2 separate regions of the Homo sapiens genome follow, and region 1 is linked to region 2. The links come from fine-mapping of genetic effects on gene expression. A gene starts in region 2. The other region holds a variant in brackets. All regions are shown on one strand. Distances are between the middles of the regions.

The links. PIP is the estimated chance that this variant, and not a neighbour inherited with it, causes the effect.
Region 1: its variant is fine-mapped to the expression of KCNH6 in lung (GTEx, PIP above 0.99).

Annotation. Positions count from the first base shown.
Region 1 is chr17:63,494,257-63,508,596 of GRCh38, reverse strand. It overlaps ACE (angiotensin I converting enzyme), which reads right to left. Exons shown (of 25, transcript NM_000789.4): 22 at 14,127-14,225; 23 at 12,081-12,203; 24 at 11,612-11,799; 25 at 10,224-11,460. The coding sequence ends at 11,231. It also overlaps the pseudogene ACE3P. Among named protein-coding and RNA genes, the nearest start is that of KCNH6, 22 kb to the left of the region's middle. The variant C/T (reference allele first, on the strand shown) is at 9,709.
Region 2 is chr17:63,515,099-63,531,002 of GRCh38, reverse strand. It overlaps KCNH6 (potassium voltage-gated channel subfamily H member 6), which reads right to left and starts at 7,645. Exons shown (of 13, transcript NM_001278919.2): 1 at 7,514-7,645; 2 at 6,634-6,864; 3 at 751-912; 4 at 461-666. The coding sequence starts at 7,589. It also overlaps the pseudogene ACE3P. RefSeq lists enhancers at 14,022-14,131, 13,128-14,327, 15,674-15,723.

The DNA.
Region 1 (14,340 bases), 22 kb after region 2:
ACTGAATATGGTCTGTCTCCCTGCAGGACCGTAGGTGCATGAGGGCAGGTGCCTGTCTTTTCACCTATGTGTCGTCAGAACCTCCCCAGCACCTAGCACCTAGGTGCTCTATGAATATTTGGAGAGCCCAGCTGCAGGGCTCATAGGTCCTGTCTCCAGGGCCCTACGGCCACCTTCACTCTGGGAAAGCTCAGCTTTGCCCCTTCCTTGCCATCACTCCAAGCTCTGTGGCATCCCATCTGCTCACCGTTGAGCTGTGCAGCCTTGTTGCTGAGCTCCACATAGTGCTCGAAGGTGGTGCAGATCTGGCGGCCCACGGCATCCTGCCAGCCCTGCCAGGCCCACAGCAGCTCCTCTTTGTCCCTGGAGGTGGCCATGACTTCGAGTTCTATGCCCAGAAAAGGAGCCATGGGGGACCCACTCCCACTTGCCTCTTCCCTCACCCTCCTGGCAATAAGGGAGGGTGGTTGGGGGCTGGGAGGGGCCCCTGGAAGGGACTGAGTGCTGGAGATTCTGTGGTTGGGTGGGACAGGGCTTGGGTGTTCACCAGACTCCAGGGACAGGCAGGGCCCCTCATTCAGGCACACCTGGGCCATACTGTATGTCATCTCCAGGTAGGCCAGAAGCTCGTTATACTGGGGGGACAGGTGTTACCCAGGGTAGGCTGGTGCCCCAGGTCCCCCCCCAGTGCTCGCCCCACCAGCCAGGAGAGATCGGTACCCCCACCTCTACTCCTCTCCTTCTCCAGAGGAAGTTCTGATCCTGCCCTTCCTCCACTCCCTGCCTCCCTCCTGCCCCAGGCACTCTGTCTCCCCTACCAGACCCCTAGGACCAGGGAGCATGTGCCTAAAGGCCTGGGGGTTCCATCCATCACCTCCCGCAGCTCGTCCTTGGACAGAGCCGCCTTGTCTATGTTCTGCAGCTTACTCAGCATGCCATTCACATCCGGGTCCTTGAACTGGGTGACTTTAAACAGGTGGGCCTGGGTGCCAAAGTAAATCATGAACTGGGACCTCTCCATGTCCTTGTGCAGCTGCAAAGAGAGCCACCAAGGTTGGGGGACAGGGGAAGGGTCCCACTTGACCTCCAGGGCCATGGCACCCTAACTGACTCCCTAATCCCATTGGCTTAGGGAGCAAGATTTGCTGAGAGGGAGAGGGCAGAAACCTGGATCTCTAAAAGCAAGGAGGTGAGATTTACAAAGGACAAGAAGCAAGAGATTCTTGCCTGGAGGAAGTTTAGGGCTTCCAGGAGGCCCAGAGCTTGCAGCCCTCTTTGACATGTACACTGGGGCTTCCCTTGTTCCTCTTGCTTGGGATGGGGGCAGGAGATGTGGTGCCCCATGGTCCCAAATCCCTAAAAAGAGCAAAGAGAGGAGAGGCTGGGGTGGAGGTGGTATCACATCATCTCCTCCTGATTTTTCCTGGTGATATTGGTGACATAGTTCCAAGTGGCCTCCATGAACTTGTTCAACACAACTTCACCTGTTTGGTCATAAAACTGCAGGAAGATCTTGGTCTCGGTCTCATTGTAGAAGTCATCTGCAGGGAAGGATATGGGCATCATGTGCTGAGAAGGTCCTGTCCGCACCCAGTCCCTTTGTCTGGTCCCATGCTTCTTGGGGTCCCAGCCACACCTAAACTGTGTTCACCCTTGATCCTGAGCCAAGGCAAGAGCTGCCCATAACAGAGGAGCACAAGTAGGGAAGGTCCAGGGCAAGTCCACCTTGCTCCCATGACCAACAGAGCAGCAGAGCTGGGTGAGGCCAGCTCCATATTGTGACGTCAGAGGCCAGAGGCTCAGCTACAGAATGTTAGAACTGGAAATCCCCATCCACCTCCTGGTCCAACTGTCCCCATTTTACAGGTGGGGAGACTGAGGTCCAGAAAGTCAAGCCAAATGATCTGGTTCATGTAGTTAGCTAATGGCGAGCCAAAAAGAGGAACCAGGGGTCTTGACTTTTAGGCCAGAACTTGTTCTGCTCTCCTCGGCCACTTTTCCCTGGGGCTTGAGCCACCCTTGGGTTATGGCCAGGGATTGATGAGGCCCTCCCTCCATAGGCTGGGACCACTTCTGAGCAGGTGGATGGGATGATGGATGGATGGATGGATGGATGGATGGATGGATGGATGTGATATATCTGGGTCTCTGGAAGCCAGGTTATCTCTCTAGGTTCTTCTAACTTGACCTCTTATGTTCACGTGTTTGGGCTTTTTCTCTCTTATGGGCTGTGCAATCAACCCCAGGGCTGTGCAGGGCCCTCCCCATCATACCTGTTTCTCCAGGGAGACCCTGATGTTATGAGTTTGCAATTAGGAGAGGGCACACAAGGTAGGGACTGGGTGGGGTGTGGAGAGGTGAGGCGGGCACCCTCCATCCAGGGTGCATGCCCATGAGTACCTGAGCCTGATCTGAAAACCAGCTGGCAAGACACCAGCTCTCTGTAGGCCTGTGGTCACCCCCAGTACTCTTGCACTGAGGTCTGTGGAGGCCAGCTCCATCTGTCTCACCTTGGATTTCTCCTCAGACTCACTTCCCTCCACACTCAGAATCCCTGTACCCTGGGTTGCCTTCCATCACTCTCAGCCCACAATGGCTCACATCTTCAAAAAGGCCCTACCTCTACACATGGGCTGATACCACGACTAGAGAAACTGACCAAATAACCCCCCAATATGATCCATTATGGGTAAAATATATTTATAACATGAGGAAAGAAAGAAAAAAATAGTGACACTTCTGGTTAAGCTGATCGACTGAGCTCACAGGAAAGTCTCCCTTCCTGCTTCAAGCATGTAGACAGTCCATTCTCACATTGCTATAGAGAACTACCTGAGACTGGGTAATTTATAAAGAAAAGAGGTTTAGTTGGCTCTACAGTTCCACAGGCTGTACAGGAAGCACGGCTGGGGAAGCCTCAGGAAACTTACAATCATGGTGGAAGGCGAAAGGGAAGCAGGCACATCTTCACATGGTGGCAGGAGAGAGAGAGAAGGGGGAGGCGCTACACACTTTTAAACAACCAGATCCTGAGAACTCAGTCACTATCACGAGAACGGCAAAGGGGAAGTCTGCCTCCATGATTCAACACGCCCACCTCTCCTCTAACACAGGGGAGGTCAGGGTGCATCCATCCAGAGAGCTGCAGCATTGGTGTGGGGGGATAGCTGATCCCGATGGAAATGGCGTCTCTGCCAAGCTGGGAGCCCCTGCAAGCGTCAGGTGCATGCATGGGATTGTGCAGGCCATTCCAACCCAACTGAAGATGGCTGATAGGTACAGTTTACCAAGTATAAGAGAAAATCCAGTTTTAGGAGGGACAATAATAATTACCAACCCTCACTGTGGGTTGGTTCCAGGTGCCAGGGACCATCTGGGGGCTTTCAACATATGAATCCTCACAAGAAACCCATGAGGTAAGTACTGTGATCAACGCTCCCATTTTACAGATGAGGAAAGAGAGGTACAGAACGGTTGAGGAATTTGCTCATAGTCACACAGCCAGCGGATGGTGGAAGTGGGACTCAAATTCATATGGTTGGTTCCAGAGCTTGTGCTAAACTGCAGACACAATGAATGAAGCAGACTGCAATGGAGGAAGGACAAGTAGCAGAGCAATCCAAAAGGGACTTAAAATGCAGGTCTTTATGCCATGTATAAAAATTAACTCAAAAATGGATCACAGCTTATTTTCTTTTTTCAATTTAAAAGAGTACATTTAAGGCTGGGCACAATGGCTCATGTCTGTAATCCCAGCACTTTGGGAGGCTGAGGCAGGTGGATCACTTGAGGTCAGGAGTTCAAGACCAGCCTGACCAACATGGTGAAATCCTGTCTCTACTAAAAATACAAAAATTAGCCAGGCATGGTGGCACATGCCTCTAATCCCAGCTACTCGGGAGGCTGAGGCTGGAGAATCGCTTCAACCTGGGAGGCAGAGGTTGCAGTGAGCCAAGATCACACCACTACACTCCAGCCTGGGTGACAGAATGAAACTCTGTCTCAAAAAATAAATAAATAAAATAAAAATAATAAAATAGTACATTTAACACCTTATCTTGGACAATGTGACAGTCATGAGATCTTTGTGTAGGAGAAGAAAGAGGGAACAAAAGAGCAAAGTCTACAAAATTCTTAGAACACAGAGGGAAGTTTCATGACATTGGATTTGGCAATGATTGCTTGGATATGACATCAAAAGCACAGGCAACAAAAGAAAAAATAAGCAAATTGAACCTCATCAAAATTTTAAACTTTTGCATATCAAAAAACACTGTAACAGAGCAAAAAGGCAATCCATGGAATGGGAGAAAATATCTGTTACTCTCAGATCTGCTAAGGAATTAATACCCAGAACGCATAAAGAACTCCTCAAACTCAAACATTCAGAGATGGGCAAAGGGCCAGGCGTGGTGGCTCACACCTATAATCCCAGCACTTTGGGAGGCTGAGGTGGGTGGATCACCTGAGGTCAGGAGTTCAAGACCAGCCTGACCAATACGGTGAAACCCCGTCTCTACTAAAAAAATACAAAAATTAGTCGGGCATGGTGGTGGGCGCCTGCAGTCCCAGCTACTCAGGAGGCTGAGACAGGAGAATTGCTTGAACCCAGGAGGCAGAAGTTGCAGTGAGCCGAGATTGCCTCGCCGCACTCCAGCCTGGGTGACAGAGTGAGACTCCACCTCAAAACAAACAAACAAACACAAACAAACAACGACAACAAAAACAAAGATGGGCAAAGGACTCGGGTAGACATCTCTCTAAAGAAAATACATGAGCTGCTCATCAGCACAGGAAAATATGCTCAATATCACTAATTATTAGGGAAAGGCAAATCAAAGCCACCACTTCACACCCATTAGGATGGCTGTTATCAAAAAAACAGAAAACAAGAGTCGGTCAACGTGTGGAGAAATTGGAAACCTTGTGCATTGCTGGGGGAAAATGGCAGAGCCGCTGCGGAAAACAGTCTGGTGGGTCCTCAAAAAAAATGAAGCATAGAATTACCATATGATCGGGCAATCCTCCTGGGTATATACACAAAAGAACTGAAAGCTGGGACTCAAACAGATATTTGCACACAGTGTTCTGTCAACCTGAAATAATAAAAAAGATCAGAATCCAGTTTAACAGGTTTATTCGAGCGTGAAGCTGAGGACGGCCATTCTCACAGGCTCCAAAGAAATGGGGTCAGTGCTCTGAAGCTGAAAAGTTTAAGGTCTTACTTTATAGTCAGAAAACTAAGAAATTAGGTAGAATCACAACATTTCCCATATAAGTTTGGTTTATGAGGTACAGCAATTTGATTAGTAATAGCTTATTTTCTTTTTTTCAGTTTAAAAGAGTACATTTAACACATCTTGGACAATGTGACAGTCGTGAGGTCTTTGCGTAGGAGAAGGAAGAGGGAAGTTAATCATCTATAATGAAGTTCAACAGAAAAGAGGAAAGGGAACTTCTATGGCACCCTTCAGTCTTTTATAACATTTTACAAAATGATGTAGCTAAGGGGAAAAGGAGTAATCTATAATCAAGGAAACAAAGTTCATAGCTGCCCGTAAGTGACTCAGGTCCCAAAATTACTTTCCTTCAAGGCTCAGAATAATTTAAAGTTTCAACAGCTTTGATTTTGAATTACTTTTTTTTACAGTTCATAGTAACATTATTCACCATAACCAAAAGGTGGAAACCCATATGTTCATGGATGAATGAATGGATAAACAAAATGTGGTATATACATGTAATGTAATATTACTCAGCCTTAAGAGGGAAGGAAATTCTGACACATCCTATAACATGGATAAACACTGAAAACATTATGCTGAGACAAGCCAGAGACAAAACAAATACTGTATGATTTTACTGTTTAATGGGTACAGAGGCTGGGTACTGTGGCTCACACCTGTAATCCCAGCACTTTGGGAGGCCGAGGCAGGTGGATCACTTTAGCCCAGAAGTTCGAGACCAGCCTGGACAACATAAGGAGATCCCATCTCTACCAAAAAAAAATTTTTTTTTTTCTTTTTTGAGACAGAGTCTTGCTCTGTCGCCTAGGCTGGAGTACAATGGGATGATCCTGGCTCACTGCAACCTCTGCCTCCCGGGTGCAAGTGCTTCTCCTGCCTCAGCCTCCCAAATAGCTGGGATTACAGGCGACCCCCACCACACCTGGCTAATTTTTATATTTTTAGCAGAGATGAGGTTTTGCCATTGTTGGCCAGGCTGGTCTCAAACTCCTGACCTCAAGTGATCCGATCGCCTTGGCCTCCCAAGTACTGGGATTACAGGCGTGAGCCACCGTGCTTTGGCCTCTACTAAAAACTTAAAAAAAATTATCTGAGTGTGGTGGTTCATGCCTGTGCTCCCAGCTACTGTGGAGCTTGAGGTGGGAGGATTGCTTGAGCCCAGAAGGTTGAAGCTGCAGTGAGCCTGGACAACAGAGTAAGCACACTTTTTGGGGGCACCTTGTCACACACAGAAAAATGAAACTGTTCTGGAGATGGACAGTGGTGATGGCTGCACAACAATTAACAATGTGAATGTACTTAGTGCCACTGAATTGTACACTTAAAAATGGTTAAGATGGTGAGTTTACATTATGTATATTTTGCCACAATTAAAAAAACCAGGTCTTTAAAGTGATTCAGAGAACAGAATCTGTGAGGCAAAAACAGGCGTTTATGAAAACCCAGGAGGTTTGAAAGAAGCAGGGATGCTAAAATGAAAAATATAGGGATTAAATTGGAACGACAAAACTCTCGACAGCCAGATTAAACAGTAGGCTAAAAATCAGAAGCACCGGGCCTGGAGGACACAGGTGGGGAATCGCCAGGCACACAGGACAGGAAATGGGGTGAGCACTATGAGCAAGAGTTAGGAGACAGAGGGCAAGATAGAAATCCCCAGGCAGGGTCTTATGGGGATCCTCGAAGGTGAGGGGAGATGATGAGGGAGAGGAGACATGGGGAGAGAGGATGAGGCAGAAGCGACACAGGGAGGGAGGATGAGGGAGAGGATGAGGGAGAGGATGAAGAAGAGGCAACACGGGGAGGGAGCATGAGGGAGAGATGACATTGGGAGAGAGGATGAGGGAGAGGTGACATAGGGAGAGAGGATGAGGGAGAGGATGAGGGAGAGGTGACACAGGGAGAGAGGATGAGGGAGAGATGACATAGGGAGAGAGGATGAGGGAGAGGATGAGGGAGAGGTGACATAGGGAGAGAGGATGAGGGAGAGGTGACATAGGGAGAGAGGATGAGGGAGAGGATGAGGGAGAGGTGACACAGGGAGAGAGGATGAGGGAGAGATGACATAGGGAGAGAGGATGAGGGAGAGGATGAGGGAGAGGTGACATAGGGAGAGAGGATGAGGAAGAGGCGACATGGGGAGGGAGGATGAGAGAGAGGAGAGATGGGGAGAGAGGATGAGAGAGAGGATAAGGCAGAGGTGACATGGGGAGGGGAGATGAGGCGGAAGCGACACAGGGAGGGAGGATGAGGGAGACGATGAGGGAGAAGTGACATGGGGAGGGAGGATGAGGGAGAGGAGAGATGGGGAGAGAGGAAGAGGGAGAGGATGAGGGAGAGGATGAGGAAGAGGCGACACGGGCAGGGAGGATGAGAGAGAGGATGAGGGAGAGGCAACATGGGGAGGGAGGATGAGGGAGAGGTAACACGGAGAGGCTGAGGGAGATGTGACATGGGGAGGGATGATGAGGGAGAGGCGACACAGGGAGATGGCTGAGTACTCCCGGAACTGAGGCAAGCTGTGGGCCCCCAGTGGACGAGCTCTGTGTGCTCCCAGTAAGAAGACAGTTGACTGGCTGTGCAAGGACGTGTGGTGGGGAAGTTCCTGGAAGGCAGCTGGGAGATGGGAGTTTTCAGTCCAGCTCCGGCACCCAGTTGCCCCGAGTCCTCTTCCTGTCTCAAGTGAGAGGGCTGATCTGGACTTGGCTGATCTGGGGTTGTTATGAAACTAGCTTTCTCAGGAGACGATGCATTCATTATAAAGAGAAGACACTCTACTAGGACTTTGTACATCATCTCATTTCATCTTCATGGCAACGCTGAGAGGGTTGATAAGAACCGTAAGAAAGAAAATGCAGGCTGGGCGCGGTGGCTCACGCCTGTAATCCCAGCACTCTGGGAGGCCGAGGCAGGCAAATCACGAGGTCAGGAGATTGAGACCATCCTGGCTAACACGGTGAAACCCTGTCTCTACTAAAAATACAAAAAATTAACCGGGCGTGGTGGCTGGCGCCTGTAGTCCCAGCTACTCGGGAGGCTGAGGCAGGAGAATGGCGTGAACCCAGGAGGCCAAGCTTGCGGTGAGCCGAGATCACGCCACTGCACTCCAGCCTGGGTGACAGAGCGAGACTCCATCTCAAAAAAAAAAAAAAAAAAAGAAAAGAAAAGAAAATGCAGACTGCAAAAACAAACTGCCCAAGGTCACACAGGTGATAAGTGCAGAGGTGGGGTTAGCCACTTTTTCACTTATGTTAAAAGCCAGGGTGGGTGGGAAGGGGGTTAGGCAGACAGAGGAAGGTAGAGGGTGGGGAGGGCTGTGGGGATCAGAGAAACTGTCTGGCAGCCACCACCTGTGGCTAGCGTAGGTGAGAGCTGGTCTCCCAAGAGCGGCATTGGCAGGCATGGCACGGGGATGGGCTCAGCCTTCAGGGCCACCAGTAGAAAACACTGGGGTGGCCCCTCTTCCTGCTGTTACCGCCTCCTCTTCCTCTGCTACCTTCCAGGTATCCCCTGCCTCTCCCCACTCACCCAAGGAGGCAGAGGCAGGCATCTAAAGAATGATACTATTGGGCCGGGCGCGGTGGCTCATGCCTGTAATCCTAGCACTTTGAGAGGCTGAGGCGGGCGGATTGCCTGAGCTCAGGAGTTCAAGACCAGCCTGGGCAACATGGTGAAACCCCATCTCTACTAAAATACAAAAGAAATTAGCTGGGCATGGCGGCGTGCGCCTGAAGTAGTAGCCCAACTACTCGGGAGGCTGAGGCAGGAGAATCGCTTGAACTTGGGAGGTGGAGGTTGCAGTGAGCCGAGATCAGGCCACTGCACTCCAGCACTCCAGCCTGGGCGACAGAGCGAGACTCTGTTTGAAAACAAACAGAAAAAAGATACTATTTCAAAAGCCCAGAGGGTAAGGCTGGCCAGGCCAATGCAGTGTGGAGTTTCTCTTCCCCCAGCTGCAGTGCAGTCCTTTGCGTGTTGAAAGCTGGTGACCTCACGCGGCCCAGAAGCTCTGACAGGCAGCATGAACCGCTGTGGTTCATAAAAATAGGAAACGGGGGCCAGGCATGGTGGCTCATGCCTGTAATTCCAGCACTTTGGGAGGCCGAGGTGGGTGGATCACCTGAGGTCAGGAATTCGAGACCAGCCTGGCCAACATGATTAAACCCCATCTCTACTAAAAATACAAAAATTTAGCCAGGCATGGTGGTGGGCGCCTGTAATCCCAGCTACTCGGAAGGCTGAGGCAGGAGAATCGCTTGAAAGCCAGGAGGTGGAGGTTACAGTGAGCCGAGATCACACCACTGCACTCTAGCCTGGGCAACAAGAGCGAGACTCCATCTTAAAAAAAAAAAAAAGGCAAAGGGGGTCATATGATGATGACCTTTGTCTGGTAAACAAAGAGCTTTCAAAACAGGCTGGGAAAAGGGGGGATAATTCAAGAAGTCTTCATTGGTAGATGACT[C/T]GGAACCATTTAGAGGACATGTTTATAAATTCCATTGTCCTATGTAATCATAAACTTCCACCCTCTTTCAATCCTAAAATACCTCAGCCCCACATCCTGCCTTACAGAATGGGCCTGTAACAGCCAAGCCTGTGTACAACACACACACAGACACGGACACACAGAGACACGCACGGCACCTGGATTGGGGGGCAAAAGCTGTGGACTAAGGGGGACAGATATTGGGAGATGGACCTAGCTAGGGTGAAGACATCAGCAAAGCCCAGAAGAGACTCAGGGCTGAGGGTTTGACAGAGGGGCCCGGGTGGCTGGGGAGCCCCTGGCCCCAGCAAATGGACCAACTTCTATTGGCCAAGTTCGAAGTCTGGCATTTAAATATCAGAAAAACAGATCTAGTTGTATGAAGTGATAAAAGGATGTATGACTGTAAATATGGTGTGATCCCATTTAAAATACACATGTGCTGAGAAGAAGTCCGGCAAGTTGTACACCAAAACGTCAACAGGGCTTATCTCTTGACGTTGATATAAAGGGCTTTTATTTTCTTTACAGTTTTCTGTATTTTCCAAATTTCTACATAAACATACACATAAAAGTCATAAAAATGTCCCTTAAAATGACACTCCCTCCAATGCAGGGAGTGAGGAGGTGTGTGCTGGGACGCCAGCAGGGTGGCTGCTGGCAGCTAATCCCTGTGCAGGTGCAGCCACTGCTACACTCCAGCGTCTGAGGCCCCTCTGCACTGGCAGTGTTAGAATGGCTGTCTGAGAGCCAAGGCTGTTCACCCGAGCAGAGTCATGGAGCTGGTACAGGCAGGAGCCAAGGTAAGCACTAGGCTGGTGTGTGCCCTCCAGGGGGCACCCTCCTTGAAGCAGGCCCTCCAAGGTACTCGCCCCCTGAGGCAGCCGATAACAGCCGGAAGCCTTCCCCTGGGGGGACCTGGCCATTTGTGGAGCAGGGAAAGGCTCCACTGCCAGTGGAAATGTGAGGCCAGCAGCCCAGGATGTCTGCTTCCCAGAGTCCGCGTGGGTCAGTGCTTGGGCCAGACAGGGGCTGCCTGCGGTGGCAGGACAGTGGCGGGCTGCCTGGGCTGGAGGGAAGACAGGCGCCAGCGCCAGGAGGTGCTGGGGCAGAGCTCTGGGGATCCTCCCCGGCTCCTGAAGGAGGATGGAGGAACAAACCTAGTAACGGGACCCACTTGACTGCCAGGAGGCAGGAAAGCAGCCTGTCCCTGTCCCTGGCTTCCCTGTGAGGGACACAGACTCAGATGGGGAGGGCAGGACCTTTAATTGTATTCACAGAGAGACTTGGAGAGGTGGGGCTCAGTGTCAGGCAGCCGTGTGCTGGGAGAAGGGGCTGGGGCGGCTGGTGGTCTGGAGGACTGGGAGGGGAGGGGGACAGGGACAGGGCAGGAGGAGCAGGGTGGGCTGGGGTGTGGGGTGTGTCCTCAGCTGCCCACCAGTGTTCCCATCCCAGTCTCTGGTGGGAGGCCCTTGGGCAGGGCCGACCCAGCCGGGTCACCTCAGGAGTGTCTCAGCTCCACCTCGGAGCCGAACTGGGGCCCGTGGGAGTGCCGGTGGAGGCTGCGGTGGCGGATGCTGAAGAGCCGCTGGCTGAGGCCCAGGGTGGCTACCAGCAGGGCGATGCCCAGGAAGAGCAGCAGCCACTGGCCCACGCGGGCCTGCTGCGCATCCAGGTCCAGGCCCAGGAAGCTGACGCGGCCGCTGTCTGGGAGGGGCCCTTCTGAGCGAGCTGAGCGGGAAGCAAGGAGACAGCATGGGCAGGGCAGGGCAGGGCAGGGCAAGGGTGCGGGGCAGGGCCAGGCTCCGAGGTCAGCCGCATGGCTGCCCAGCCTGGGGAGGGGGTTAAGACCCAAGGCTGGAGGTGGGGTGGGTGGCGGTACCGGAGTTCGGCGTCCAGTTGTACTGCGGCCAGCCCAGCTTCTCCCCATGCAGCTCGTTCTCCGTGCGGAGCCAGTCCAGCAGCGGCTTGAAGTAGCTCAACATGGCCGAGGCGCTCATGTTGGGCTGGCCCGTGATCAGCTGCATGGCTTCCGGCCACGGCCTACTGAAGCCCAGCTTCATGGCGGTCCTGGGGAGGCATGAGACAGGGAGGCAGAGTCAGAAGGACATGGCCCCTCTTGCCCCCACCTGACATCCACTCTCCATACCCACTCCCAGCTGAAACTTGTCCCAGGGCCCCAGGGCTCCAGGTGCCTAAGGAGATGGCAATCAGGCCTGGCCCACGCTGCAGGTGGGAGTTCCCGGCTCAAAATGGCAAGTGTTCCCACAAAAGCTCCAGTGGACAGACCCCTCAAGGCCCAGGGGCGCAGGCCAGAGCATGGAAACAAAGGAGGGCTGGAGGACACTCACGCCAGGCGCTGCCCGGCCTCCTTGGACTGGTAGATGTCACACTTGTGCAGGGGGCCCGTGTGGCCAGCTGCCTGGCACAGTGCCTCGTGGAACTGGAACTGGATGATGAAGCTGACAAAGTACCTGGAGCAGAGCGAGGCCGTGGCCCGGGGCGGAGTTGGTTGAGGGCCTTGTGCCACTGGGCCCCAGGCCCTTCTGCACATCACATGTGATGTGTGCTAAGTCACATGCGCACAGCAGAGCCAAGGCCCCCCAACTCTGCCCACAGCTATCAGGGTGAGCTCCCCCACCCCAGCTCTTAGCATTGTCTGAGCCTCTTCCTAGCCGTGCCTGTGTAGATGCCTCCCACCCACAGAGCTGCCTCCACAACTCAGGAGGGCCTGCTCCATGGGGTCAGGGCAGAGCCTTCAGAGATCTGGCAGGTGGCTTTGGAGGCAGTGAGGTCTCCATCCCTGGGGTATATGCAAGTAGAGGCAAGGTGTGGCCAAATGGGCCGTGTGGATCTACTAGGGTGGTCTGGGCAGGGAAGCCAGTCCTACATGATCTTATCCAAAGCATCACGAATTCCCTGGTAGAAATCTGCCAGTCAAGGCTGGAGGATTCTCCCCAGCTTAAAGTCTGAAGAGGTTTTAAATGTCCTGAGCCAGTGGCACAGGCCTCTCACTTTGAATGCTGGGTGCAAGCATGTACCACCTAGTTCCCTGGTCTTTCCTAAAAGTGCTTTGTGAAGGCTGCTGGCCAGAATCCGGAATGTTTTTCTAGAGCAGCCAAGTCTCCTTTGCCCACCCCTGTTTGGAGAATTGTCTGCATTAAGCTGGGAAGCTAGCCATCACACCAGCTGGCTCCCGGGTGAGAGCCAGCGCCGGCTGGGAACCCCAGGGACCACTCCAGCAGGCAGGCGGGAGCCCTGTCCTAAGTGTCATCTCTGGAGCACCGTCTAGGTCAGGCCTATCTGAGGTGCTCCAGGGATGCCCTCTTCCTGGACTCTGGGGACAGACTTCATCCATCCCACAATCAGTTATTAGCACTTGATGATGTGCTGGCATCATCCCAGGTGCCAGGAGGCAAGGTGGGCATGGGCCCTGCCCTTGCTGGGCTTCCAGGAACCACGGGAGGCCAGGGCCAGAGGCAGCCACAGCCCTCTGGGGGTGGCCTGGGCTACCTGTAGCCCGGGGGCACCTGGAACTCCAGCCTGAGGTCTCTCTAGCCCCCAGCCTCCCAGGGAGCCTCCCGGATCACAAACAGCCTTGCTAGCCCTCAGCAAGTGCTCTCCCGGGGCACACAGAAGGAGAGGGGCTGCATTGGGCACACTCATCTGTGGCCATGTGACCTGCAGACCTAGTGTGCAGCTACATTCCACTAGAGAGTGATGAATAGTGGGGTCCTGGCCACCCCTCCCTGAGGAGGCTGTGTATGAGACAGAATGCTAAGAAGTTAGCCATCGTGCATCCTGTGAAATGGGGTTCACAGGTCAGGAAATGGAAGCTCACAGAAATTGAGGAATTTTCTCAAGGAAACAAAGTAATGGAGACGGAGTTTGAACCCAGTTCTGTCTGACCCCAGCCTGTGACTGTAACTTGCCCCAGCAACCCTGCCTCCCACCTTAACCGATCTCCAATCCTACATTTTAGTGTCTAGAAGGGCTTCCAGGTACAATTCAAATTGTATCGCAGACAATGTTCAATAATAGTAAAAGAATCACAGTCTTGTTTTAAAAGCAAAACAAAACAGTGCAGAGCTCATGATCCAGCCATGAGTCGTGGTTAATGTTAACTACTTAACCAAGGTCTGGTAACCATTAGCCAATTATTAGGTTGAGTTTCTGTGTTCAACTGTTTGGATGGTACAGACTCTCATCAAAAGAATGTTCAAGAAAAAACCCATCAGCCTTGGCAGTGTGAGTGGGCCCAGGCACCTGCACCGTGCGGCCGGCTCCCCCGGGTCTGCCCTGACTGACAGAGCTTGTGGACCGGGCAGTGGCCGCAGTTGAAACACAAAGCTGTGGGTACTGCCCCTCACAATGTGCCCTCCTGCCTTTCCCGTTACCTGATGTAAGGCACGCTAGAAGGAATGTGGAACTTGGCCCCTGGGTCAAAGTCACCTTGAGTCCTGGGCACTGGGGGGCAGAGGCCCTGGTACTTCAGCCTGTCGAGTGGGAATATATGTTGGAAGATGAGTTTGGGGAGAACCAGGCTGGGGGTGGCATTTTTGACTTGAGGGAGGGTCCCTGCACTTGGGGCTATACTGGGCACCCCATTCT
Region 2 (15,904 bases):
AGTAGGGAGGGTGGCTTTTGTCTCAAAGGCAAAGGGCTGGCACAGGGCTGGGACCCCCCCCCACACCAGCTCTCCTCTCAGTATGGCCTTGGCATGTCTCCTCTCTGCCTCTCCTTCCCTGTGACGGGCTGAGCCTTGGTCAGGCCCCCATGGTGGCCTCCATGTCCATCCCCTGCCCTGGCTTCTCCAGGCCTAGGAGGTGGCATCATTCACAGGCCCTACTGACCCCAGCCTCCTCTGGCTCTAGGAGCTGGGCACAAGGGCTGTGACCTCAGGGCAGGCCTTCAGGTCTTTAGGTCTCAAACAGGACAGGAGGCCCGGGGCTCAAACCAGATATTAGAGGCTGGACAGGCAGGATCTCTTTATCGGCCAAGGCCCCAGAAGGGCCTGGGCCCAGAGCCTGGGAGGGGACCCTGGAGGCCTGGCACAGCTCTGCACACCCTGCTCTGCAGGCCCGCACCTGGGTGACCTTCTCAGTGACGTTCTGTGTCCGCTCCACCACCTTATGGGGCGCGATGATCTCAATCTCCGTGGTGGAGCTGGAGCGGTGCTTCTCCAAGTTGAACTCCACGAAGTTGAGCGTGAACTGTGGGATCTGGCTGATGGTCCTGTACTTGCCCCTGCCTGTGCCTGGCCCTGGTCCGCCTGGCCTGCCATGAGAGCCCTCTGAAACCAGGGCCAGGAGTCAGAGCAGCCACGGCCAGGGGACCCTCATGCGTCCCTCCCACCACCACCCTCACTCTGCCTCACCGGAGCCCAGGAAGCTCTGGGACAACAGGCGCTGGGACAAGCTGCGGCTGCTGCACTTGGCCAGGAGCTGGGCCAGGTCCTCGAAGTTGAGAATGAACATGATGACAGCCCCGTCCTCGTTCTTCACGGGCACCACATCTACCAGGCAGCGGAAGCTGGAGGCTGCGAACACCATTGGGAGGATGGGGGGTGGGCCCTGAAGGGGTCCCCTCCTGCAGTGGCCTGGCTAGGGAAGGGGCTGAGTGAAGGTCAAGTGAAGGGCAGCCACGGGTGAAGAGGCTTGGACAGTGACCAGAGATACTGGGCAGAGGGTGGGTGAGGCTGCTCAGCTGGTGCTCCACCCACAGGGCAGAGGTGGGGAGAGCGGTTAAGCTGCTTATTAGGAGATAAGGTAGCATCAGATCAGGCCCAAGTCCACGCTCGGCCATCAGCTCAGAGCTTAACCTCGAGGTCTGCTTCTGCTGTAATTAAAGCTGAGCAGATGGGGGTGGATTAAGTGGGGAGGTGAGGCTGGGCATTCTACCCCATGGAGCTGGGTTGGCCCTGGGCGCTCTTCCCATATTCCCATCCTGCAAAGATGCCCTGCTCCTGTGATGCAGGGAGGAATTTGTTGTTGAAAGTACACTAAGTGCTGGGCATGGGGCCAGTTGGAACATTTGGCCTCAGGAGGTCCTTGGGGGGCAGGCATGGACCCCCATTCTGCAGAAGAGAGCCTGAGGTTCTCAGAAACTGACTTTCAAGGGCTGGGAGGGAGCATGGAGAGAGGATCCCTGGGTTTGCAGGACACAATAGCTTGGAAAAGGGAAGGGACTTGTTTGGGAGGAGAGTGCTGGGGCCAGAACCAGGCTGCTGCTCTGGGCCTAGGAGGAGTGTGGGGTCCCAAGGCAGGGCTGGGCCCAGGGAGCAGGCAGAGTAGTGGCCTGGGCACCACAGAGGGAGGAGGATGGCCCTGTGGGGGCAGGGCAGGCCCCTCTGGCCACCTTCCCCATTATCTTGGGCAGCCCACACCCAGCGGCTGGCTGCTCTGTGCCTCTCAGGTCGTAGACTCTGCCCCTCCAGGGTCTGGCTGCAGCCCCCTTTGGTGGATGGAACAATACCAGCTAAAATGCCCCATGCCTGGCCGGGCGTGGTGGCTCATGCCTGTAATCCCAGCACTTTGGGAGGCTGAGGCAGGCGAATCACTTGAGGCCAGGAATTCAAGACCAGCCTGGCCAACATGGTGAAACCCCGTCTGTACTAAAAATACAAAAATTAGCCAGGCGTGGTGGTGCGCACCTGTAGTCCCAGCTACTCAGGAGGCTGAGGCAGGAGAATCGCTTGAACCCAGGAGGCCAAGGTTGCAGTGAACCAAGATCATGCCACTGCACTCCAGCCTGGGTGACAGAGCGAGACTCTGTCTCAAACAAACAAACAAACAAACAAAATACCCCATACCCAAGAGCCCCAGGCCAGGCACCCCACGAGCACCCTCTCCATGGGAGTCCTATGTCCCTCAACTCAAACTGTTGGCAGATGTCAGGCCCAAAGGGCAGGATCCTCAGGGGGCAGGGGCCTCAGGTGACCACGCAGATGAGAAGGCAGAGCTGCACTCCCTGAGGGCAGGTTAGGCTCTGTTTCACCTGTCCCAGGTGTTGTTTGTTGACTGAATGTATGGAAGCCCACGTGTGGGGGACGCAGGCCGGCCGCTGGTGGGAGTATCACTGCTGTGGAGCTCACTGGAATGACTCTCCACCAGACTCCTTGTTTCGTCCTCAGCCCCTCCTCACAGCCATCAGAGCTGGGGTGCAGCTGAGCCACCCATATCCTCCCTCTCGCTTTCCTCCCTGGGGAGTAGGAATCTCTCGTATTGGATTTCTGGACTCCCAGGCACCAGGCAGCCATCTACCATCTGCTGCCTGGGCCCAGGGGAGACACCCACACTGGGGAGAGGCGCCTGCCTGCTTCACCCACTCCTGGGCACATAGTGCTATAGGCCCAGACTCCCAGGCCCAAGCCCATAACTCCAGTCAGCCTGGGGCATGGTGACACGTGGACGCTGGGACCTAGACAGGGAGCCTCCTTGGCCAGTGGCCTCGGACACTGCTCCTAAGGCCAGATTATATTGTCAATCTCTCTGGCACTGCAGAGATCTGTCCTGGCAGGGGGCAGGGAGAGGGCAGAGCTGGGCAGAGGGGCAGAAGGCCTCCAGGGCTCTCTAAGCTGCTGGGGGCTGTCAATACACAGTCTTGGCGTGGCTGCACCCAGCAATTGATGTTACTGGAAAATTGATGCAATTGGAAAACTGCGGCTGGGAATGGACCAAAGACCAGCCCGTTATAGCAGTGAGGTCTGGGGCTGGGGTGGGGTGCCAGTGCGTGGTACCCCATGCCCTGCCCCCATGCCTGTGGCCTGTTGGGTAGGCAGACAGGAGGCTAGGAGGATTTGGAAGAGTCCAGAGCATTCTCTCTCCCCCTGCCCCAGGTTGTCCTTGCTTACCCGTGGCTCAGAGCCCCCACACAACAAAAGCCCACATCTAGGTGACCAAAAGTGGGTAACTGTACCATCTCAGGTTATGCCCAGGAGGGATGGTGTTCCTGTGCCCTCACCAGGGCCCTGGAGGAGGAGCCACAGTCTCTGCCTGCTTCTTCCTTGCAGGAGCTCCTCCCAGCACCCACCTTTCTGACCAAGGGCAGCAGGTTTGTCTGCCCCCTGGGAATTCCCATTCCTTCTTATATGCTAGGTTCTTACTTTTCTTAGCAAAGGCACCCCACTTCTCTCCCCTGGGAGACCCCAATTCTCTCTCCTCTTCTCTCCCTCTTGAATGTGCTCCTTCGTTCAGTTTCCCAGCACTCACAACCTCCTTGTTGTCTTCACCTCTGTCTCCCGATGCACACCCCATCCAGCACTGTGGTGAGTCCCCAGGGAGAGGCTGGTGCTACAAAAAGCCAAAAAGCTGCCACTGAGAGGGTGGCCGCTGCATGCTGCCTCCTAGCTTGGTCCTCCTGGCATTCACAGATGTGCATATGGTAAACATGGGAGGAGGGTGGGGGCAGACAGCAGCCCCTTGTCCCATCCTCCTCATCAAGAGCTGAGGACTGGAGAAGTCCCAGGACTCCTCTGATCTGGCTTGGGGATTAGGGGACTCTCTGGTTCGGGATCCTCAGAGAAGAGGACCCAGGAAAGGCAGGCTGGGGTGGGCTCCCGGGCAGGTGCCAGTGCGGGGCAGGCGTGGGTGACAGTGGGGGGATCTGAGTGCTCTCCTTTCTTCCTGCCAAACTCTCACCAGTTCTAGTCCTGCCACATCCCCATTCCTCCTTATCTGTTAGGTTCTCACCACTCCTAGCAAAGGCAAATAGAGGAAGAGCCAGTTTCCCAGGGGTCTCTGAGATGTCTCCCGGGGTATTTTTGCCAAGTGCCCTGGCCTCTTTGAGCCCAAATGTCTGTAGCTGCACAACGTGGAGCTATGTGAACACAAACCCTCCACTTTGACTTCGAGAATTTTCAGTGGATTACCCCTTTAGAGGAAAAGAGGATTATACATAAATCAGCTAGAGATCTGCTCAGGACCCCTTCCCACCTCCCTGGAGTTGGGGGTTGGGGGGAAGGGAGGTACTGACCCGAGGAGGAAAGAAATCACCATTAGGATGCCCCTCAGCAGGACTGTAAGTGTACATGAATATGGTCAAAAATGGATCATGTGCCAGCCTGGGCAACATAGTGAGACCCCCATCCCTACAAAAAATTAAAAAATTAGTCGGGTGTGAGGGTGCGCGCCTGTAGTCTCAGCTACTCAGGAGGCTGGGATGGGAGGCTGCAGTGAGCTATGTTCTTGCCAGCCTGCGTGACAGAGCAAGACCCTGTCTCAAAAAAAAAAAAAAAAAAAGGATTATATGAGGTCAGAGTGGACCTTAAGGTGAACATCAGTTATCTGAGCACAATATCCTTCCCTTAGTGTAATGCAGGCCAGGAAGCTCCCCTTTCTGGGTTTCAGGACAATTTCAGGAAGGTCCAGGTAAATCAAAGCCTTGGGCAATAAGATAGGGAAGGGCCGAGGGTGGGATGGGAGTAGATTGGGACTTATGGGGCACCAGGTATGTGGGCAATTTCCCATTTTCACCGAGGGTCAGCCCCCAAGACAAGGTTCCTAGGTTCCCTTCTGAGACCTGAGGACTCCCACAGGATTCTGATCTGAGTCCTGATCTCAGGGGGCCAAGGCCAGGCTTTGACTTCTGCCCTCTGCCCAGACACCTTCAGGGTGCTGAGGGGACCTCAAGAGCCATCACCTGACATCCCTAGGAATCTGGGATCAGGTATAGCTCTAGTGTCAAGGAGAGGAAAAGAAAGGACCTGCTGTAACCCCCATTTCCTGCTGTCCCATCCTGTTCCCCAGGACCCTTCTCACTCCCCTGACTGCCACCTCTCCTCTGCAATGATGTGAGGAGGTGAGGTCACAGCTTTTAAAAATATTCTGAGTTCATTAACCCTGTGAGTACTGCCACACTAAGCCAGATTCTTCCCAGTCCCTTCCTGGCTGCCGCTGCCTGTTGCACTTCCCACTGCCACTCACTCAAGTGGCAGCAGCAGGAACAACCAGGACCTACCCGAGAAGCTGTAACTCTGAGAAGCCTGCAAACACACACACACAGGCGTGAACTTGCAAGCACACACTCACACACAGAGGCACACACATGCAAGCACACACATGCTCATGTTTCACACACTCCAGGCCCCTGAAACCTGGTCTCTCAGCACTCCTCGGTCCCGATCCAGAGACATCCATTCTTTATCTCCACTCAGGTGGCCTCATGCCTGCCTTCCCTGGGGACTTCTCTCCCCTGAGCACCTCCTTCCCCAGAAATCCTGCCTGTAAACACAAAGGCAGCTGGGGTCCTTTCTCTCCTCTTGGGATTACTCAAAAGAAATCTCCGAGGGAGGAATCCAGAGACTTGGGTTCCAGTCCCAGGTTGGACTCTAGCAGTGGGATCTTGGGCAAATCCCTTCCACATCTATGAAATGAAGGGATTTACCTAAGCCAGTGGTTCCTAAAGTAAGCAGGACATCAGAACCACCAGGGAGATATTTCCAAATACACCCGCTTGGCCTCATCTCACACCTTCTGAGTCAGCCTCTCTGTAGAGAAAGCATGTTTTGGAAAACATGCTCTGGGTAATTCTGATGCAGAACCAGGTTGGGGGCCATTGATTCAAGAGATTTCCCAGGACATTCAGGCTCTTTTCCTCGTTCCCACCCATGCTGCCAGGTCCAGTGAGGACCCTGTGGTCCTGGGGGGTGGGGGAGGATTTCCAAGGGCTGCTGAGATCTGTCTTCAGCTCCTGACTTACGCTTCTGTTCTGCTTGCAGTATGCTCCAGCTGGCAGTAACAACCCAAACTCCATCTGAATGAGCTTCTTGGTCAGGGAAAACTCCAGACCCTGTCTCCCCAAAGAGCTGAGACTGGATAAGGCAGGCCCACCCCACTTTGCCAGCCAAAAGCCCCCATGCCTTGCCTGGCCACAGAGGTCTTCAGGAGGTGACTCCTCCTCTAATCCTTGGAGCAGACGGAGAGGAGGGAAGGTTAATTTCCATCCCAGCTGCCTGACCGCTGGGGCTGACAGTAAGATAGTGGAGAGCCAGGAGACCAGGGACACAGCAGAGGGATGGCAGAGCAGGAGGCCCTGCCCCAGGCCAGAACCAGTGGGTGGCCCAGCCTGATCCCTAGCTCCTGCAAAGGACCTCAGAAGGCATCATATCCAATGCCTGTGGAGGAACCAAGGCCCCTAGAAGAAACAGGGTTTGTTCAGGCCCTTTGGACCCTGGGTCAGTGCCTTCCCCAAGGCCACCCTGGCTGGACAAGACAGAGGGCCAAGCCTGCCCTGCAAAGCCTCTGGCCTGAGTATGCCTCACCATCCTTGCGGTAGTAGAGGATGTCCACCTTGCACTCCTCAGCCCCCAGCAGGGCCTGCGCTAGGCGGGACACGGCGCTGCTTGGTGTGTTGGGGCCTGTGAGGAAGTCGCAGGTGCAGGGTTGCTGCATCACCTCCACTCGGGAGTAGCCGAAGAGTTCGCAGAAGCCGTCGTTGCAGTAAATGATGGCGCAGTTCTCCATCTGAGCATTGGCAATCAGGAACTTCCGACCTGGGGTGGGAGGTGGGAGGCAAAAAGTCCATGGGAGCCAGGATCCAGCGGCTGGGAGGGAAAGATCATAAGGACTCTTGGTGGCAGTAAGGGGAATTTAGGCAGAGGAGCAGGGCAGTGACCGGAATGAGGGAGGGAGTCAGGCCTGGGGATTGTGGGAAGACTAGGGCAGTGAGGGTCTTGAGGTGGAAGGAAGGCCCAAGGCCTCCTGGAAACAGGAAAAGTGTGGGGAAGGGAGGCAGGGATGTGACCAGATGGGGGTCAGGCCTGGGAAAGCTCCTGGGAAGACCAGAACCAGGATATGAAAAGGAAGGAAAAGAAGGACTCAGAGAAGCCTCTGGAGGACGCGGATGAGGGGGCAGGCAGTGGCTGGAAGGGGAGGTTCGAACTTGGGGCACCAAGGAAACAGCTGGCAGTAGGGAGGGAAGGCCTGCACGCTGCTCCTTGTGTTCCAGAAAAGAGGACAGCATTTAAGGCAAGCGGGTCCCCCTGGAGGAGAAGGTGTTGGGGACATCAAAAGAAGGATTTTTCATTCAGCACCCGGCACTCACCACCTTGCCCGGTTAGAAGTTAGTAAAGGGGTCCAGCCCCCCCTTTCACGGAACCAGGACTCCAGATCGTCCCCCCGCCCCAACATACACACACTCACTTTGGCCCTCGAACTTGCGGATGATGGTGTCCAGGTAAGTGTTTTGGGGAGCGACGTGGCCCCTGCGGACCGGCATCTTTCGGCCGCGGCCCCTGCCCGGAGCCACAGGCGCCACTGGCTCCCGGCGTCTCCGTCTGTCCTCGGGCTCAGCAGCGTCCGGCTCCGGTGGGCGCCGCCCCCGGGGAGGGCCGCCGGGCTCCGCGCCCCGCCCGCCAGCCTGCGTCTGCCCTCCCCTCCCCACCCCTGCCCCACCTCTCCTTTCCTTTCCTGCGCTCCCCTGCCCTCCCCTCGCCTCCCTGGCCCGCGCCCTCCTGGCCTCCTCTCCTCTGCGCCGGCCCGGGAGCTGTCCACGCCTTGGTGCTGAAAGAAGCCGCGCGCCGGCGGCGGGGAGGGGGCCGCTGGGCGGGGCAGTTTCTCTGGGACCCGACGGGGCTGGGGCGGGGCCTTGCATCCTACGGGGCGGGGCGGGGCGGGGCGGGGCGGGGCTGGGGTCCTGGCCCTGGAATAGGGCAGGTGTTCTCTGAGGAGCTGCTTCTGTTCCTGTCCTAAGGGCCAATGGCCTCAGCACCTCTCCGATTCCCTCCCAGTACCAAAGGGCAGTCTCCCCTCCCAGTGCAGGGAGTTTCCCAGGCAGGAGGGGGGCTACAGATGGGGTTGTTAGGGGCCTCAGGTGGTCTTTGGCTGAAAGCTTTCTTCCGGGTCTGACCACTGGGCCCGACCCTGGCAATGATACCATTAGGCCTCTGGCCTGCTCTTATAGCAAGTGATCTCCAGCTCAGCTGAGACCTAGGTCCCATGCAGAGCTCCTGCCGCCAAGTCCAGCCAGGGCCTGGTCCTGAGAGGAGGGGGTAGGAGTACACATGAAGACGTGCAAGAAATATGCAATAAGGGCCAGGCGCGGTGGCTCACGCCTGTAATCCCAGCACTTTGGGAGGCAGAGGTGGGCAGATTACCTGAGGTCAGGAGTTTGAGACCAGCCTGGCCAACATGGCGAAGCCCTGTCTCTACTGAAAAAACAAAAATTAGCTGAGTGGTGGCGCAAACCTATAATCCCAGCTACTTGGGAGGCTGAAGTGGGAGAATCGCTTGTACCCGGGAGGCGGAGGTTGCAGTGAGCCGAGATTGCGCCACTGTACTCCAGCCTGGTAGACAGAGCGAGACGCGAGACTCCATCTGAAAATAAAAAGAAAGAAAGAAAGAAGTATGCAATAAGATGCCTTCTTCAGAGGCCTGAGAGCTCTTAGCATACAGGTACATCTTGGAAGGAGAACAGATTTAAAACCACCTATTAGCAAGTGACCACTGATAAAAGTGTCTGAGTACTGAGTACTGACTGAAAATGAACACACTAGAAAAAGCAAATGGGGGTGGGAATAGGTTTATTGAAAGAGGCTTCCTGGAGAGGAAGGGGAGAAGGGGACTACTGTTCACTGAGCATCTGGGTGGGCTTGTAGTGCTGCAGAGGGTTTGGTGAGCAATTTTGAGCCTGATCTTGGAGGGCAAGCATTCAAATGGGGCATGCACCTTAGGCAAAGGCCAAAGGTGATGTCAGTGCAGAGGGGCTGGGGTGGGGGGAACAAGGGGGTGTGGGAGAGGTGAGTTTGGAGGAAGGAGGTAATTAATAAAGACCCTCAGATGCCATTTTGAACATCTAGATTTAATTGATGAACAACCAAGTTCTTAAGCAATTAGACATGAAAGAAATATTCTGGTGACATAAACTTTACAATGGTGGGTGGGGGAGGAAGGATAGACAAGGAGGCTCAGCAAGGTTTTTACTGGAGTCCAGGTGAGAGGCTTAGAGTCCTGGGCTGGATGTGTGTTTGTCATGCAGAGCCACAGTGCCTAGTGGGGGCCTCTTTGGCCACTGTGGCTGGGGGATGAGAAGAGGGCAGAGATGTCCTGGCTGCCCCTCTGTTGGACAGGCTGGCTGTGGAGGAAAAGAAGGGGCTATTTCTCATGAGCTCAGTACATGGGGTGCTGAGCTCTGAGGAGGGACTTGGGCAGTGGGACATTCATTCATTCATTCATTCACTTACTCATTCCATCATTTTCCAAGTCCCTTTTGTGCACCATGGCCTGTGCTGACTAGAGTTGTTACAGAGGGGCACACTCCTGATGTGCATCCAGCTCTTATAGAGCTGATAGCTAGTAATAGGGACAAATAAGGACATTATGGCACAGAAAAGTAAGAGCAGGGACAGAGTCATCAAACAAGGGTGCTGTGGAGCCTGGGGCTGGAGCAAGTGCTTGGGCTCAGCCAGATCTCAGAAAGACCTTTTGAAACCTGGACAGGGGCAGGGTCCATGGAGATCTCAGCCTAGTATCTCTGTCCCCTGAACACCTGAGTTTGGGGCTCAGATTCTTAATTCAGAGAGACCTGGTCTCCTCTTTTGGCCACCCTCCCACCAGCTCAGTTGCAGCCGGGGTACCCCTTCTCTGTAGTTACTGGCTATAATGCCCTTTCCCCTCAAGTTTTCCCTATTCTCTGACAGACACTGACTCCCAGCCTCCCCAGGAGCCCATGCAACCTCCATCCAGACGCTCTGAATCCCCAATATTGAATGTAGGATCCTCATGGCAGGCAGACCCAGGCTGAGGATAATGAACTAGGAAAGGCAGAGGCAGAGGCCTTCCCGTTCTTTCCCCAGGCTTGTTTCTAGAGCACTAATTTCCCAAGTATTCTCCTACAGTTCCCTCCTTCCTGTCCTCCCCATCCCCCACTGAGCCTGAAAAGGTGCTGTTTGTCCTATGCTCGCTCCCCAGGGCAACGGGCCAGGCAGCAGGTGTGTGTGTGTTGAACAAGGCCATCTCCAGAGCAGAGTGGTTGGAGATGAGCTTTGTTTAAATATTAAAGAAGTCAATCATTAATCAAGCCTGGCTCAATGCCCAGCAACCCACTGTCTCCATTTGGAAGGGCTTGGGCTGGGGCAGAGAGAGCCATGGGGCAGTTTGTGAGGCTACTTACATCTCAACTGGTCAACAAAGAGCTTTTGGGGGCTGGATTATGTAGTCCAACACAGGGCTGGCCCAAGGATTAGCAGAAAGATGTGCTGGTTGGTATAAAAGCACAGTGCTCATAAACTGGGCACTGGTGATTCGTAAAGGAATGTCCTGTCCTACCTGAGTACATTTTATGTACTGTGGACTGAAGCAGAGTCCTTTTTCTAACCAGAGCAGAAGTGGACTGAAGCAGAGTCCTTTTTCTAACCAGAGCAGAAATTCCTTGGGCACTGCAGTCCCATAGCCGGGTTACTGAAAAAAACAAGGCTGTGTGCAGAACCAATTCTGGGCATGACTTGGGGTGGGGGCTGGTTTGCAGGGACACAGCCACTGGGTCAATAAAACCTTAGGTCCTGAGCCACCAGGGGAAGGAGTTTGGCCTGAAACCCAGGACACACATAGAATCACATAGAGCCAGTTGTTTGTGCACACAGCCTCACATACATGAGTTTGCAAACACACAATTACAATATCACATGTACCCAGATCTGCCACAGCTGAACCCAATTATAATTGGGCACTATGCATGCAGGCTGTCCCCTCCTCTGCCCCCCAACTCTCTGGCTCAGCCTCCCTCCTCCTGCCCCCCAGCCTCACCAGTTCACTGGTGTCTAGTCCCAACTTCACCATTCAGCTCTTACCCTTGGAGGCTTCCTGCTTTACTGTGTGAAAATCCAGATGGCCAGGCTGATTGAGCACAGCATCAGGACAAGGCAGAGGCCCAGCAGCATCCACTGTCCTTTAGCAGCCTGGCAGGGTTCCATGGCTATGCCCAGGAAGCAGGCATTGGGCAGTGGGCTGAATATCTCAGTGTCTTGAGTCAGTGACTGTTTTTCCAGGGACTGCAGCCTGCAGGCCAGCCCCAGCACCACCAGAGACATGACAAAGCCCAGGGCCAACAGCACCCAGTACCCAAATTTAGCCTGGTTGGGGTCCAGCTTCAGACTCAGGAATGTCACTTTGTCTGTGTCTTTTTCTGTGGAAGACATAGGAGTCTCATAGGGTGGGTAGAACTGGAGAGGGACCCCTGGGGTCTCCTGTGGCTGTCAGAGGAGATCTGATTGGACTACATGCCCCTGCATGCAAGGGACCAGAGGCAAGATGCTGATCCTTTGCTCAGATGTCAGCCTGGCAACCTAGCTGGACAGTGTGCAAGGAAGCAACTGAGCCAGGGGCTGTGGTGGGAGCGGTGGTCTTGGCTGAAGCTGCATCAGGCCTGGTACAGACAGGGTCCCACAGCAGCAGTGCTGTTGATTCAAGCCAGGTCATGAATGAGCCAGGGGTTAAGGCTGGGTAGGGGTAGGTACTAGGACAGAGCAGGGTAAGGTGGAGCCTGGGGCTGGCCCAGAGCTGGAACCAGGGTCAGATTATCAAACCTTCAAAGGAACAGCTGAAGTCTGGCCAGCCTAAGATGTCCCCTTGCTGCATGTTCTGTCACCAGCCAGGTCAGTAGGGGTTTGAAGTAGGTCATGAAGACATTTGTAGACACCTCAGACTCCCCAGTCAGCATCTTTAGGACCTCTGGCCAGGGCTTGCTTGAGCCCAGCTTTAGAGCATCCCTAGGGGAGTGGGTGCAGCTGTGAGGCTGTGTGAGGGCATCAGCTGGTGCAGCTGAGACCCCCAGTGCACCCAATCCCAGCCCCAGCGATTGGCCAGCCAGAACTTTCCCGCAGAGCTTGGCATAGTGGATACAATCACAAGTTTGAAAGAAGATTAATCTGGGTTTGAATCTCAGCTCTGCCATTTAGTAGCTGTGGGGCCTTGGGCAAGTAACCTTTCTGAGCCTCAGTTTCCATATCCATAAAACGGAGATGATAATGGTATCTACCTCGAAGAGCCATTGTAATGATTAAATAAACACGGTGCTGGGAGCATAGCATGCAGGCAATACACGTTAACTACTGATGATGATGATGATTCCTAGTACTACTGGTAATACTGTGATGATTATTATTCTCCTGGACTCAAATAGGCATAAAGTCCTGAGACACTGTTTCCCGTGAGGTGCTCGGTGTTGGTAGATAGTGGCAGCTCTTCACCCCTTTCTGGTTTCAGGGAGGGTTTGGGAGGATTAGAAACATCATGAGCATGGGAGGTGCTCCGCACACCACCTGTAGTGCTGCACAAATGTCAGCTGTGTTTCACGGCACACCCGGTCCTTAGGGGCAGGTGGTTGAACTTTATGCTAGGTCCCTTGGGCTCACAATGGGAGTATAAGGTGTGCTGAAGCCAGGGCTCCAGGCTTCTCCACTCCAGAGTCCCCAGGAGAGGCAGTGGTGGGCAGATGTTTATCCTTCACAACCTGTTGTTCCTTGATCCAACTCTCAGGACAGACTTGGGACCCAGAGGCCCAGAGGTCACGATCTAGAGTCTAGACTAACAGGGCCCAGGCTTAAACCTGACCTAGCAGTGCTACTTATGGACTGCATAACCTTAAGCAGACAACTTAGCCTCTCTCGGCCTCAGTTTCCTCATCAGTAAAATGGGAGCCATGAATACCTGCCCTCATTGTGATGAGGACTAAGTCCCACAATGATGAAGGAGGGTTTGTAGCTTGCAAAGGCTTATGCGCATCACTTAATAAACAACTGGAAAAGAAAGAGTTAGGGAAACCAAAGGTCAGTGGGGCCTTGGCAGATACCACTGGAGAAGAAAAACCACAACTAACTCTAGGTAAGAGGTTCTGATGCTGGCTCCTGAGTAAGAGGAAGAACCTAGTAGGGGAAAAGCTTCAACCATTGAGAATCTACCCATTTAGAAACAGTCCTTCAGGCTGGGTGGGACAAGATGTTTGACCAAAGGGCAGCCAACAGCCCATGTGGACAGGACATGAGACCAGAGAGCAGCAGAGATGACAACTAGATGCTGCCTGGAGCTTTCAACTCCAAAGTGACAACAACACACCCCATGGACAAGGTCAGGCGCACCATGGCTGGTGGGGTGAAGCTGGGTGACTTTGAGAACTTTGACCAGGCCCAATTCAACCCTCCATTCCCAACAGAAGCAGCCCAGAGCCTGACTCAGGGCCATCACATTTAGGAGGATGAATCAAAAGTAGCAAAACCAAGTTTTAAGATCAATTAGGCAAAAGAGCAGCCAAGAATCTTTCTCTTTTCCCCCTGCAAGCACTCACATCCCCTCTCCCCTCCACAAACCATATTCGGCTCTGCTGCTATTTCATCATCTGCAAAGGTCATGATATCCTCCTTACTCAGAAACCTTTCCTCTGCCCACGGCTCACAAAATGGTATGTGAAGTCCTAAGCCTGGAATCAGGATTTTCCCTGAGCAGGAGTCTGGCCAGGGACACACAGGGACTGGTGAGCAATGACAAGAGATGACTCACTGGCCACATGCTTTGGTGCCAAGTCAGACCCTGAGAGCCCTGTGCACCTTGAGTGGGGTGAGCGTGGGAAGTGGTGAAAATGACTGAGGTCAAACATCCCACCAATCAGGTGGGATGAAAGAGGTGAGTTGATGTAAAAGAAAACAGATATCTTGGCCAGGCGTGGTGGCTCACACCTGTAATCCCAGCACTTTTGGAGGCTGAGGTGGGTGGATCCCTTGAGGCCAGACGTTCGAGACCAGCCTGGCCAGCATGGTAGAACCCCGTCTCTACTAAAAATGCAAAAATTAACCAGGCGTGGTGGTGTGTGCCTGTAATCCCAGCTACTCTGGAGGCTGAGGCACGAGAATTGCTTGATCCCAGGAGGTGGAGGTTGTAGTGAGTCGAGATCATACCACCGCAGTCCAGCCTGGGTGACAGAGTGAGACTGTCTCAAAAACAGAAAAGAAAAGAAGAGAGGAAAAGAAAAGAAAAGAAAACAGATATCTGCTATTTTTTTCTCTTTCTTCTTCTCCTTTTTTTTTTTTTTTTTTAAACGGGGGTCTCGCTCTGTTGCCGAGGGTGAAGCACAGTGGTGTGATCTCAGTTCACTGCAGCCTCGACCTCCCAGGCTTAAGTGATCCTCCTACCTCAGCCTCCTGAGTAGTTGGGACTACAAGTGCGTGCCACCATGCCTGGCCAAATTTTGTTCATTTTTTGTAGATACAGGATCTAACCATGTTGCCCACTCTGGTCTCAAACTCCTAGGTTTAAGGGATCCTCCCATCTTGGCTTTTCCAAAGTTTTGAGGTTATAGGTATGAGCCACCATGCCTGCTTTCTGCTATTTCTTGCACACTTGCATTTGAGGACAAAACTCCCTCCTTGGTCCCCCAGCATGACCTCCTAATCCTCTTTCTATGTTCACGAAAGCCCCTTTCCATTGCCTGGTATTATGAAATTTATTTATTTACTTATTTATTTATTTATTTATTTGAGATGGAGTTTCCCTCTTGTCGCCCAGGCTGGAGTGCAGTGGCATGATCTCGGCTCACTGCAACCTCCGCCTCCCAGGTTCAAGCAATTCTCCTGCCTCAGCCTTCCAAGTAGCTGCGATTACAGGCAACCATCACCACTCTCAGCTAATTTTTTGTATTTTTAGTAGAGACGGGGTTTTTCCATGTTGGGCAGGCTGGTCTCGAACTCCTAACCTCAGGTGATCCGCCAGCCTCAGCCTCCCAAAGTGCTGGGATTACAGGTGTGAGCCACCATGCCCGGCCATGAAATTTATTTATCCTGTGGTTCATCTACCCCTGTTGGATGCAGAGCAGCTGGTCTGCATGAGGACAAGTAAATGTTTACTGAATGAATAAATGACAGGCAGCCAGAGATAGGAATGCAAAGAGCAGAGAGGTGCCCTTATGTTCAACATGTTCAGAAAAGCTCAAAGCTGGGCAATCAGCTAGAATAAAGCCCTGAGACGTGAAAGGATGGAAGAGCAAATCTACTAGGGAGACAACAGTCATGCAAGGTGCAGCCCTCCCTAGGAGCAAAGCCCAGGGGATCAGTCCTGAAACCCCATCTGGCCTGGTGGCTACAGATAAATTGCATGGTGGAATCAAAAATATGCTCATTAAATTTGCAAAGGATACTAAATTTGTGGCAGTGTTAATCCTCTAGGAGACAGGAATAAAGCTCAAGATGACCTTGACCAATTAGGGAAATGGACCTATTGAAATCCGTTGAAATTCAACAGGAAAATGATCAAGTCGGTGGGTGAGCTCCACATCTCCAAGGTTGGAGTGCTGATCTTGGAACCAGTTAGACCTGGATCTAAGCTCACCAGGGGCTGTATTCTTTGAATGATGGAGGCGAACAGGGTGAAAGATAATGTGTTCTGGAGTCAGTTCTGGTTTCAAAGCATGACTTTGCTTCTTGCTAGATGAATGATGCACAACGACACCACCTCTCTTGCCTTCAGTTTCATAATTTGTAAAAGGCAGATAATAATATCCACTTTGCAAAGTTAAGAGCTATTATTATAATATGAAACACTGTAAGAGTA